Regions from separate parts of the Homo sapiens genome. Here region 1 is reported to be linked to region 2. Evidence: microRNA targets listed by miRTarBase, many of them from high-throughput screens and not tested one by one. Region 2 holds a microRNA gene; the other region holds the end of a gene's coding sequence.
Evidence for each region. The annotated mature microRNA hsa-miR-4686 reads UAUCUGCUGGGCUUUCUGGUGUU and lies in region 2 at 3,331-3,353, opposite strand. An mRNA with a match to its seed (bases 2 to 7 or 8) in the 3' UTR can be bound and repressed. Matches are read on the target gene's strand: a 7mer-m8 pairs with bases 2 to 8, a 7mer-A1 pairs with bases 2 to 7 and ends in A, and an 8mer does both.

Region 1 (5,362 bases), not on the chromosome of region 2:
TACTCAGGAAGCTGATGCAGGAGGATCACTTGAGTCCAGAAGTTCTGAGCTGTAGCACCCTATGCCTACTGGATGTCCACACTAAGTTTAGCATCAATATGGCAACTCCTGGGAGTAGGGGACCACCAGGTTTCCTAAGGAAGTATGAACTGGCTGGCCCAGGTCAGAAATGGAGCAGGTCAAAACTCCTGTGCTGATCAGCAGTGGCACTGTGCCTGAGATTAGCCACTCCACGCCAGGCTAGGCAACACGGCAAGACCCTGTTGCAAAAAAAAGAAAAATAAAATAAAGGAAAAATAAAATTCTCACAAGCAGACTGTAGGTGCCTCCCCTGAAATGGGAGAGTAAACTAGTTGGCTTCTATGCCTCTTCCAAATCAAACAACCTCTGATTTCGAAAACAACTCACATCAGAATTTCAAAACATAGCCACCATAGGGATTAATGAAACTAAAACTCAGAAGACCAGATTCCCTCACTTATAATGTGGGAATGTGATAAACTGGTCAAAAATCCTCAAGGATTTTTGAGACTCATGCATACAAAAACTTGGGAAGCTCTGCAGTGCTACACAGGGGTGGGAGGCATTGCAACCTTTTTCACTACGAGTGTAGACCATCTGTGGCCTGAGGCAAGTGTCTGAGCTGCCACAAGCCAGGCCAGGCGTAGACTCAGTGAACCCAGGCAGAGGACCAGCTTCCTCCTTCAGATAGCCCCAAACTCAGCCACTAGGCCCCTCATATGCTTTCATTCATCAGCCCCTCAACCCAGTGCCTCTTGGTTTCTCTTCTTGCCTTCTATACAACCCCCAGGGCTTTAACTCTCTTGCAGACTGTGGGCTCCTTGTAGACAGTCCTCTATGAGCATTTTATCTTCACTTCTTCAGAACTGCCAGCATAGTCAGTACCAGACACTCATTGATGTCTAAGGGATGTCTTTTCCCATCTGAATTAGCCTGAGAGCTTGTGAACTGGAGTTGGTGGGAGACCCACCCATAATGGAAATCCTCTCCTCGCTCCTTCCTCTGTTACCGTCTATACTGCTGGCATCTGCTAAGGCTCTGTCACCTGTCAGTCACAGGGCAGATGCTCAGAATCAGAGGCAAATGAGAGCCCTATCTGCCTTAAGGGAGCCCACAGTTTAGGGGGTCCAGGAGGTGCATAAGGCAGCTAGAAGATAAGTGCACAGAGGCCAAGGGCTGGGAAAGGCCTACCTGGGGGTGCAAGATTGAGAAGGATTTCAATTAATGGAATCTGGGTAACCTAGAAGGAGGGATGTGGTGAAACAAGTCACGGATGAGAAACAGCCAGAGTCCAGCACATGGAGGGCCATGGGCAATGGAGCTGGTGGGACTGGGTAGAAGTGCCTCTGTGCTGGGCTGGAGAGTCGGGACTCGATTCTGTAAATAGTAGGGAACTGTTGGAAGTTTGCATAAAGAGTAGGTGGTTTAGAAGGGTTAATATGGAAGCATGATGTAGGTGGACGGGCAGGCCAGGAGGTGGGGAGGCTACAGTGTGGGCAATGAGAAAGTGAATGTTATGGGGAAGGGCACTGGGCGGGTCATAGGAGACACCGGCTCTAGTCTCCCTGGGTTAAGCCATTAATTCCAGGTGGGATCCCGCACCCTCATTCTGAGAAATGAATTTCAATGAGATGATCTCTGTGCTTCGTCTCAGCTCTATCGTTTATTGAACTAAATGATGTAGAGCTCTTTCCCAGTCTCAAAACTGCTCTTGGAATGCAGAGATGGTTTCTCATGTTATTGAAACAACTAGTTCAATTCTTCTGTGACTACAGCAATTACTTTATAGATAATTGCAGAGCTAAATTTGGTGACATTCCCTCAGCTAGGTCAGAAAAGGCAAATATGGGATTTTTTCACTTTAGTTTTAATCCTTTAGGTGCATATTTGTGGTCCACCTAATGCAAAAACGTTTCATGTTATATACTACATTATATACATTAAAAAGATGACTAACCTAACAATGGAAAACAAGAAACCGTAAACATTTAGAAGAGAATGACCACTGGAGATGTTAGAGGGGGTGGAATTTGGCTCTGAGCTTCCCAGCAGCCCGAGCAAAAAGAGAGCATAGTAGGAATTGTAGTTTAGTGGCCTCATTCATATGAACAGTTTTCTTTCTTCACGGTTAAGCATTCCATTTCATTGGACACACTCAGGTAGGTTCCTTATGGTAATCACAAATAGAGAAACTGGGATGACTGAGCTGGGCTTCAAGAATCTTAGGTACACAATTAATGTGAGGTTGCTTAACTTTCTTTTGGCTCTTGCACACACACAGGGGCAGAGGCCGTGAGTGATTTGGGGCCTGTAAAATGCAAACGAACGGAAGTTTTTTGAATGACAATTCAAAAAGAAAGGGTGCATTATTTTTTAGTCTGGGGATGGGGACTAGGAGAATTAAAGGGCATTTTATCTTATTTTCTACATGGCGAGACCATCAGAAAGATGTCCATGGTAGTATCACCAACCTCGTATCTCAAGGGTGTGCGATAAGCAGGATAAGGAGGACTGAGTTCTAAACTCCTACTTGCCTTTATAAAATGACCAAAGCGGCTGGGCATGGTGGTTCACGCCTGCAATTCCAGAACTTTGGGAGGTCGAGGTAGGTGGATCACAAGGTCAGGAGATCGAGACCATCCTGGCTAACATGGTGAAACTTGGTCTCTACTAAAACTGCAAAAAATTAGCCGGGCATGGTGGCACACACCTGTAGTCCCAGCTACTCAGGAGGCTGAGGCAGGAGAATCGCTTGAACCCGGGAGGCGGAAGTTGCAGTGAGCCGAGATTGCACCACTGCACTCTAGCCTGGGCACCAGAGTGAGACTCCATCTCAAAAGAAACAAATAAAAATGACCAAAGCAGACAAGGACACATGGCTTGGTGTCTCCCATCTCTGCCCCTGACAAACTGTGTGTCCAGGCAAGCAAAGCTGTCTCATCTCTGGACCTGCTTTCTTCTCAGTGAAGCAAAAGGCCTTTTTCTTTTTTTTCGGCTCACAGTTAAAAATCTGAGATGAACAAAACCCTAGAGAAATAACCGAGTACAACCTGACACTCAAAAGAGAAATAGGTTATTTGTACACTTTTAGTTCTGAGAAGCTGCTTACAAGCAAGGCTCTTATGTCCCAACAGGTAAACTATCTCCTTAACACACAAGTCTTGGCTCTGTCTTCTGGAGCCTGCAAGATTGATCCCATTTCCAAAGGGCAGCCCAAGTAGCCAAGACACTGCTGTGTAATAGGAATGGCAAGTAGAGAGCCATGCCACCCATATGGGGTCTCCATTGTGACCCCAGGGTCTCTCCTGCACCTGGTACTTGCTCTGGACTACGTAACTGTCACTCGTGAATTACACTTTGGTGAATCAGGTTGAGTTCATTGAAGGGAGGAACCCATTTCCATCTGTTTATTCTGCTTACTCTGCTTAGCCTAGAACCTCCACAGATCCTAGTGAATGTTTTTAACAATGAATTCTTGGAGACAAACTATGCTCTACCTTAAAATAGAAGACTGTCTGCCAATGGGACGAATACTACCAAAGCCCAATACAAGCGAGTTAAACAACCCTGTGGCTATTTTTACTTTTCTTTTAAAGGGACTGATCTGAGGTCTCAGCTTAATTCCACTAAGGAGCCACAGTATACAGAAGTGCTCTGTAAATTATCAAATGCCATTGCTACAATGCACACAATAGTCGCTAATAACATCTCTATTCTGCATAATCTTGGAGAACTGCCTTAATTTCCCCAAACTCAGTTCCCTCCACCTTAAGTGGGGACAATGACTCATGCCCCCCAACCAGGATTGTACAGGTGCAAAAAGGGCTATTTACGGAAACCAAATTCCCTCTATAGGTTATGGATTATTTATGGTTGCTCCTTAAGGGACAGAGTGTAATGCCATTAAGGAAAAGGTTGAGTTGCATCATTTAATTTTAAGCTATTTATTTTCATAAACATGAGGTATTTCAAAGTGCTATAAGATGCAGCACTAAATATATACATTTTGAAGAAATTAAACACAGAACTTTGCATTTACCCAGTTCTATGCACCAAACATGAACAAATACATTAACAGGAAGAAACAGGCTAGGAAAAAGGCATATATATATAGTAAATTTCTTTACAAAAGTTTCTTAGTTCAAAAAGTGATAAAGTAATATCTACTCAAAACTTTCACAACTCATTTTCATACGAAAATATAAGTATCAAATTTAGTTATGTATCAGCGTCATACTAAAGTATACAGGCAGTGTAAGAATTAGTACAGTACATAACAGAGATTAACAATATATTTGTATACAAAACATGCTCCTCAAACATTGAGGTATTATTACAGTACTTAGGTATGAACTTCCAGTCTAATACTGGCCGCAAAAGCCACCTCTCATTACCCAGGATGTATACAAAAGGCGGATGTGTCAATGGTATTTACAGAAATGTTCCCCAGGGGTATCAAATGGCAAACCCCTTATGTGGCATCTGCTGGAACTTAAGCACCATTTTAAAAAGAAGGAATGACTTTCTGTTGTTTGGAAACTTGGAACACACAAGGTGACTTCAACAGCCCCAGAGGCTCCCAACCGTCACCAACGTTTAGCGCTGTCATGGAGGTGAGGTGGAGGAGGCTGCAGGGCCACCCAGCATCCTGGGATGCAGGCTCTCCAAGGTCCCAGCAGAACCCCACACTGGTGGTCCTACTGCCCACCCAGAGCCGAACTCGACAGGGGACCGATTTGAAAGTAAACCAACATTCTTAATGTCAACACAATGTTTGTTTAAAAAAAAAATCAAAATGTGCAAAGTGGCAGTGACTGTCCAGTTTTGAGAAGCGTCTAGCAAGTCCGAGCGTGTTCAATTTTCTTTAGCAACTGCTGCTGTCTTGCCTGCAATTTTTCCTTTTCCAGCAAAAGCTGGTGCTCCTCGGCCTGGAGGGAGTGGACATACTCAGTGGCCTTTTTCAAAATGACCACCTTGGCGGCCTTCTCATTCTTTACCAACTCCGGCACGTGGTCCCTGAGCGTGAGAAAGCTGGACCGAAGGTCGTTGCGGCGCTGGCGCTCCAGGATGTTGTGGTTTCTGCGACGCTCACTGTCCTCCGAGTCAGAGTTTCGGGGGCTCAAGCTCTTAGCCTTTGGGGGGATGACACTCTTGAGCGGACGTGGGGACGCCTCGCTCTTTATCTTCTTCTGTGGGGGTGCATCCTCACTCTCCACGTAGGGAGAGGGGGCGGCATAGTTGTGCTGCTGGTGGATGGGAAGGCATCGTTTGAGGATCAGCTCGCTGGACTGAGCCCTCCCGGGACCCAGGGCTGCGTTCTTGGGACGCACAGTGATGGTGA
Region 2 (5,368 bases):
ATGTGTGTGGTGCACACATGTGTTATGTCTGAGTGTGCCTGTATGTGTGCTATGTACACGTCATGTGTGAGTGTGCTTGCATGTGCAGTGTGTGGATGCTGCTTGTACCTGTGGTGTGTACCTGTGTCATGGGTGCTCACACGTGCATGGAGTGTTGTGTGTGTGCTTGTGTGCCCCATGTGTGCATGTGTGTGTGCCTCACACAGATGCCTGCATTTGCCTAGGCACTTGCAAGAGGACACCATGCTGGCTCTCAAAGATCACAGGGCCACCTGAGCCCTGTGCACACCACAGCCAGGCCATGGCTAGACCCTGCAGAGCCACAGGGCGATGCCTGTCAGCCAGGGGACCCAGAACACCTCCTGGGCTCCTCCCCAGCACATGGCTGGGCTCCTCCAGCAGGCCTGGATTTGGGAAGGGCCCGTGGTGGGCAAGGCTGGTGCTGGGGAGCAGGCCTGGTGGCCTCAGAGACTCGCCCTGTGGGCGGAGCAGCCTCACAGCCAGGTCGAAGTCAGCACTCTGACCCTGCCCCACGCGGGGAGTGGGCACCAGTCCCAGGGCACAGACGTGCTGGGTGATTAATCTGGGTGATTAAGCCTCGGGCTGAGAGGCTGTTGAGAGAGAACACGCTCCATTGTGGAGCTGGCTCAGCATTCCTTACGGCCATGGTGGCAGGGGCTGTAACCACAGGGACGGCGGAAGTGGTGGAGGGTGGTGGGGTATGGAGGGAAGCCCAGAGGGCTCCGTGCAGGAAGGTGGAGCCTGGTGCAATGGAGGGGACAGCAAGGGCTCCTCAGACCTCTGCGGGGCCCCCACTCCCCTGGTCACCTGTTTTGTCTCTGATCTGGCCTGGGTCGGCCCTCACTCCTGGCCCCACCTCATAGCCCCCCCTGGTGGGGCTCCGCTCCAGCCCTTCTCCTTCCCAGGGGCCAGTATGCTGGCCCCAGGGGTCTCTTGGGGCGTGACCTCGGCCTCCAGAGAACCCTGTCCCAGCTCTGCCCTTCCCTCTGGGGTCTCTGTAGATGGGACGCTGGTCACAGCAGCCTGTCTGATTTGTTCCCTGTGGCCTAGGTTCCTGAGCCCCACAGTGCCAGGGGATGGATGCCACCGGATCTTTGAAAGACCAGTGTCAGGCCGGGCGCAGTGGCTCACGCCTGTAATCCCAGCACTTTGGGAGGCCGAGGTGGGCGGATCACGAAGTCAGGAGATCGAGACCATCCTGGCTAACACAGTGAAACCCCGTCTCCACTAAAAATACAAAAAGTTAGCTGGGCGTGGTGGTGGGCGCCTGTAGTCCCAGCTACTTGGGAGGCTGAGGCAGGAGAATGGCGTGAACCGGGGAGGCGGAGCTTGCAGTGAGCCGAGATCGCGCCATTGCACTCCAGCCTGGGTGACAGAGCGAGACTCGGTCTCAAAAAAAAAGAAAAAAAGGAAAGACCAGTGTCTTGGGAGTTGGGAAACCTGGGCTGGAGACTCACTGCATGACCCCTGAGAAGTTGCACCTCAGAACCTCAGTCCTCGCATCTGCAGAATGGGTCTGTGAACACCTCAGCTGCCCGAACGTGGATGCCGCAGGCTGACCCAGCACTGAGCTCTACCAAGACCAGGGGCCAGCCGTGTGCTCCCTCCAGGCCTGTGCCCAGCGTGGAGAGGCCTCGTCCCGTGGGCGCTGGAGTGGAGCCTTCCTGGTGTTTGTGGACATCTCTGGAGAGGGCCAGAGGCAGGTGGGTGACACGGGGCATGGCTCAATCATGGGTGGTCCAGACTGGAGAGGTACCCTCGGGCTGGGAGCGGGGAGGCTGGCCAGGGTAGACTTTTGGGGCCTCCATGGATACCCTCACCATCTGGAATCGGAGAGGGGCACGGCACAAAGGAGGGCGGGGCCAGGGCCAGGACTGGAGTCGGGGGCACCTCTGTGCCAACAGGGGCCTTGGATCTGGGGTACAGCATGGTTCCCCGGCCCTGAAGGGGCTGGCGTGTGGGACAGGCTTCCCAGGAATGGATAGGCAGGGATGGATGCTGCCTGATTGGGGCGGGAGGCTGGAGGCAGGGCAGGTGCAGGCACCTGAGGGCAGCACTCACCTCCACAGGGGTCCAGGGGCCTCCCCAGCCTCAGCACCTGGCCTGGGCTCCTGCCTCCAGAGAGCCTGGCCCCAAGGAAGAGTCTAGTAAGCTTAGTTCCCATCGGGCTTCCATGAAAGCACAACTGGCCCGGCAGGAAACCGAATTAAAAAGCAATATTTGTATCAGTGGAAGACATTTGCTGAAAGGTTAAATCCACATCCGGCAGTGTGGGCCATGAGCCTCCGGCGTGGTGTTCATCAGGCATGTCTCTCCTCCTGGCCTGGGCACCTGAGCACTGGGGCCGCCCTGGGCAGAGCTGGGGCGGGGTGCTGGGGGGCCTGGAGCTGCCTCACCGAGGGATCCTCAGCAGCCGACCCTGGGGGAGGCAAATGAGACTCTTTCTGGGGACCTTGAGGGGAGCTCGGGGGAGCCATGCAGAGCTTCACCAGGCCTGGACACTGGGCATGGAGGCTGGGCCACCCAAGGGCCATCACCAGGGACTCAGGTGGGTGGGCCTCAGCCCTGGGTGACAGAAGCTCACGGGCCGCAGGGCGAGGCCAGAGGCTGAGCCTTCAGGCTGAGGTCTTGGAGGCAAATCCCTCCAACGCCCTTCTGAGCAGGCACCCAGACCTACTGTGGGCAGGACCCACAGGAGGTGGAGGCCTTTGGGGAACACTGTGGAGGGGCATAGCATCTCCGAGAGAGGACAGGGTCTGCACTGGGTGCTGAGAGACAGCAGGGGCCGAGCGGTAGGCTTCCCTGCCCCCAGGGATGTTCCAGAGGAGCGCAAGGGAGGGGCATTAATATCGTGGCAAGAAAGGGCAGGCATTGCAGAGTGAGCAGCGACGGAACTGGGTTTTGTGGGATGCATAGGAGTTCACCCGGATAAGAGGTGGGTGAGGAATGACACTGCAAACCGGGGATCACGGAGCCCCAAATCCTTCTGGGCCAGGAAGTGGGAAGGGTTGGGGGGTCTTCCCTTTGCTTTGACTGAGCACTCAGCCTGCCTGCAGAGGGCAGCGAGGAGCCACGGAGGGGTGTGGGACAGGGATGCCATGGCTGAAGCAGTTTTAGGAAAGGTCCCAGGGGCTATTGTTGAAGAGAGAACGGGGAGCGGGGAGTCCCACAGCTGACAGGAGCAGAGTGGGCCCTGAGAGATGCCAGCTCTGGCTGCCACAGTGACCAGCCGGGGTAGGCCTTCGAGAAGTCAGGGAGCGTCTAGGGCTTCTGGCTCCTGCTGGGCCCAGGGTGTCATCTTGGGCTGCCAACACCAGAAAGCCCAGCAGATACAGGAAGCCCCAAGCCCTGTCGGAAACGGTTCTTCTCCAGGAGGGACAGCGGTGGCAGCGTTCAGCCGCAGGCCATGCACTCTGGGGCCACGTCCTTCCCTCTGTACAGTCCAGCATTGTCAAGGCAGGCTCTGGCCATCTCTGCTGACCCCAGAGGGATGGGGAGGCCTCCCCTTCCACCAGAAGGGCCAGAAGCCACCCTGGGCAGGGGCATCACTCTCCCTGGGTGGGGCAGCGGCTGGGAGCAGGAGGTGCCAGTGGGCGTGGGCTGGATGCGGGTGCCTGCGGGGCGGACATGGAACTTGGGGGAGGCTCTAGGCTGGGGTTGTCCTCAAGGGAGTTCTCAGGTCACCCCAGGGTCACCCTCAACCCGGGGCCTGGTGGGGTAGAGGAGAAACTGCAAAGGTCTCTCCAAGGGGAAGGCATCAGGGCCCTCAGCACTGAGGGACGTGCGTGCTCTTTAAAGAAGGGGCCACAGGACCCCGAGGGAAGCCAGGAGCTAGCAGTGGGCCATAGAGGGGCTGAGTGGGGTGGGTGGAAGCCGTCCCTGGCCCTGGTCGCCCTGGCAACCCTGGTGGGGACTGTGATGCAGGAGGTGGCAGCCATTTGGAAACGCGTGGCGTCTCCTTAGAGATGTCTTCTTCAGCCTCCCAGGGTCCTCCACACTGGACAGGTGGGCCCTCCTGGGACATTCTGGACCCCACGGGGCGAGCTTGGGAAGCCGCTGCAAGGGCCACACCTGCAGGGCCCGGGGGCTGTGGGCAGATGGCACTCCTAGGAACCACGTCTATGAGACACACGGCCTGGAATCTTCTGGAGAAGCAAACAAATTGCCTCCTGACATCTGAGGCTGGAGGCTGGATTCCCCGTCTTGGGGCTTTCTGGGTCGGTCTGCCACGAGGTTCTGGTGTTCATTAAAAGTGTGCCCCTGGGCTGCCAGAAAGCCCCTCCCTGTGTGCTCTCTTGAGGGCTGTGGGGCCAAGGGGACCCTGGCTGTCTCAGCCCCCCGCAGAGCACGAGCCCCTGGTCCCCGCAAGCCCGCGGGCTGAGGATGATTCAGACAGGGCTGGGGAGTGAAGGCAATTAGATTCCACGGACGAGCCCTTTCTCCTGCGCCTCCCTCCTTCCTCACCCACCCCCGCCTCCATCAGGCACAGCAGGCAGGGGTGGGGGATGTAAGGAGGGGAAGGTGGGGGACCCAGAGGGGGCTTTGACGTCAGCTCAGCTTATAAGAGGCTGCTGGGCCAGGGCTGTGGAGACGGAGCCCGGACCTCCACACTGAGCCATGCCCACCCCCGACGCCACCACGCCACAGGCCAAGGGCTTCCGCAGGGCCGTGTCTGAGCTGGACGCCAAGCAGGCAGAGGCCATCATGGTAAGAGGGCAGGTAGGTGCCCGGCGGCCGCAGTGGACCGGAGCCCAGGGCTGGTGCCAGCTGCCTCTGCTACTCCCCAGCCTGGCTGGCAGCCCCAGGCTCAGGGTCCATGCAAACCCCTGGGACGCGGCGTGGATGTGGAGGCCTGGGCACAGCGGCATCCCCTGTGCCTGGTGTTTGAGTCCCTGTTGGGGGAGGGTGAGGTGATGCCTGTCCCTGTGTGTGCCCCTCTTAGGCCGACCTCTCTCGGGGGTCGTGTGGGTCTCTGTGTCTTGTTTCATCTTGAATCTTAACGATCGGAATGTGGAAACAAATCCATCCAAAAAATCCAAGATGGCCAGAGGTCCCCGGCTGCTGCACCCAGCCCCCACCCTACTCCCACCTGCCCCTGCCTCCCTCTGCCCCAGCTGCCCTAGTCAGCACCCCAACCAGCCTGCCTGCTTGGGGAGGCAGCCCCAAGGCCCTTCCCAGGCTCTAGCAGCAGCTCATGGTGGGGGGTCCTGGGCAAATAGGGGGCAAAATTCAAAGGGTATCTGGGCTCTGGGGTGATTCCCATTGGCCTGTTCCTCCCTTATTTCCCTCATTCATTCATTCATTCATTCATTCATTCACCATGGAGTCTGTGTTCCCTGTGACCTGC

Region 1: the mRNA of MYCN is a reported target of hsa-miR-4686. Seed matches in the 3' UTR shown: 7mer-m8 at 4,502-4,508.

Annotation. Positions count from the first base shown.
Region 1 is chr2:15,945,592-15,950,953 of GRCh38, reverse strand. MYCN (MYCN proto-oncogene, bHLH transcription factor) reads right to left here. Exons shown (of 3, transcript NM_005378.6): 3 at 3,950-5,362. The coding sequence ends at 4,857. It also overlaps the pseudogene RN7SL104P. Among named protein-coding and RNA genes, the nearest start is that of MYCNOS, 6.6 kb to the right of the region's middle.
Region 2 is chr11:2,171,057-2,176,424 of GRCh38, reverse strand. It overlaps MIR4686 (microRNA 4686), which reads right to left and starts at 3,362; the gene lies at 3,287-3,362. TH (tyrosine hydroxylase) reads left to right here and starts at 4,610. Exons shown (of 13, transcript NM_000360.4): 1 at 4,610-4,728. The coding sequence starts at 4,639.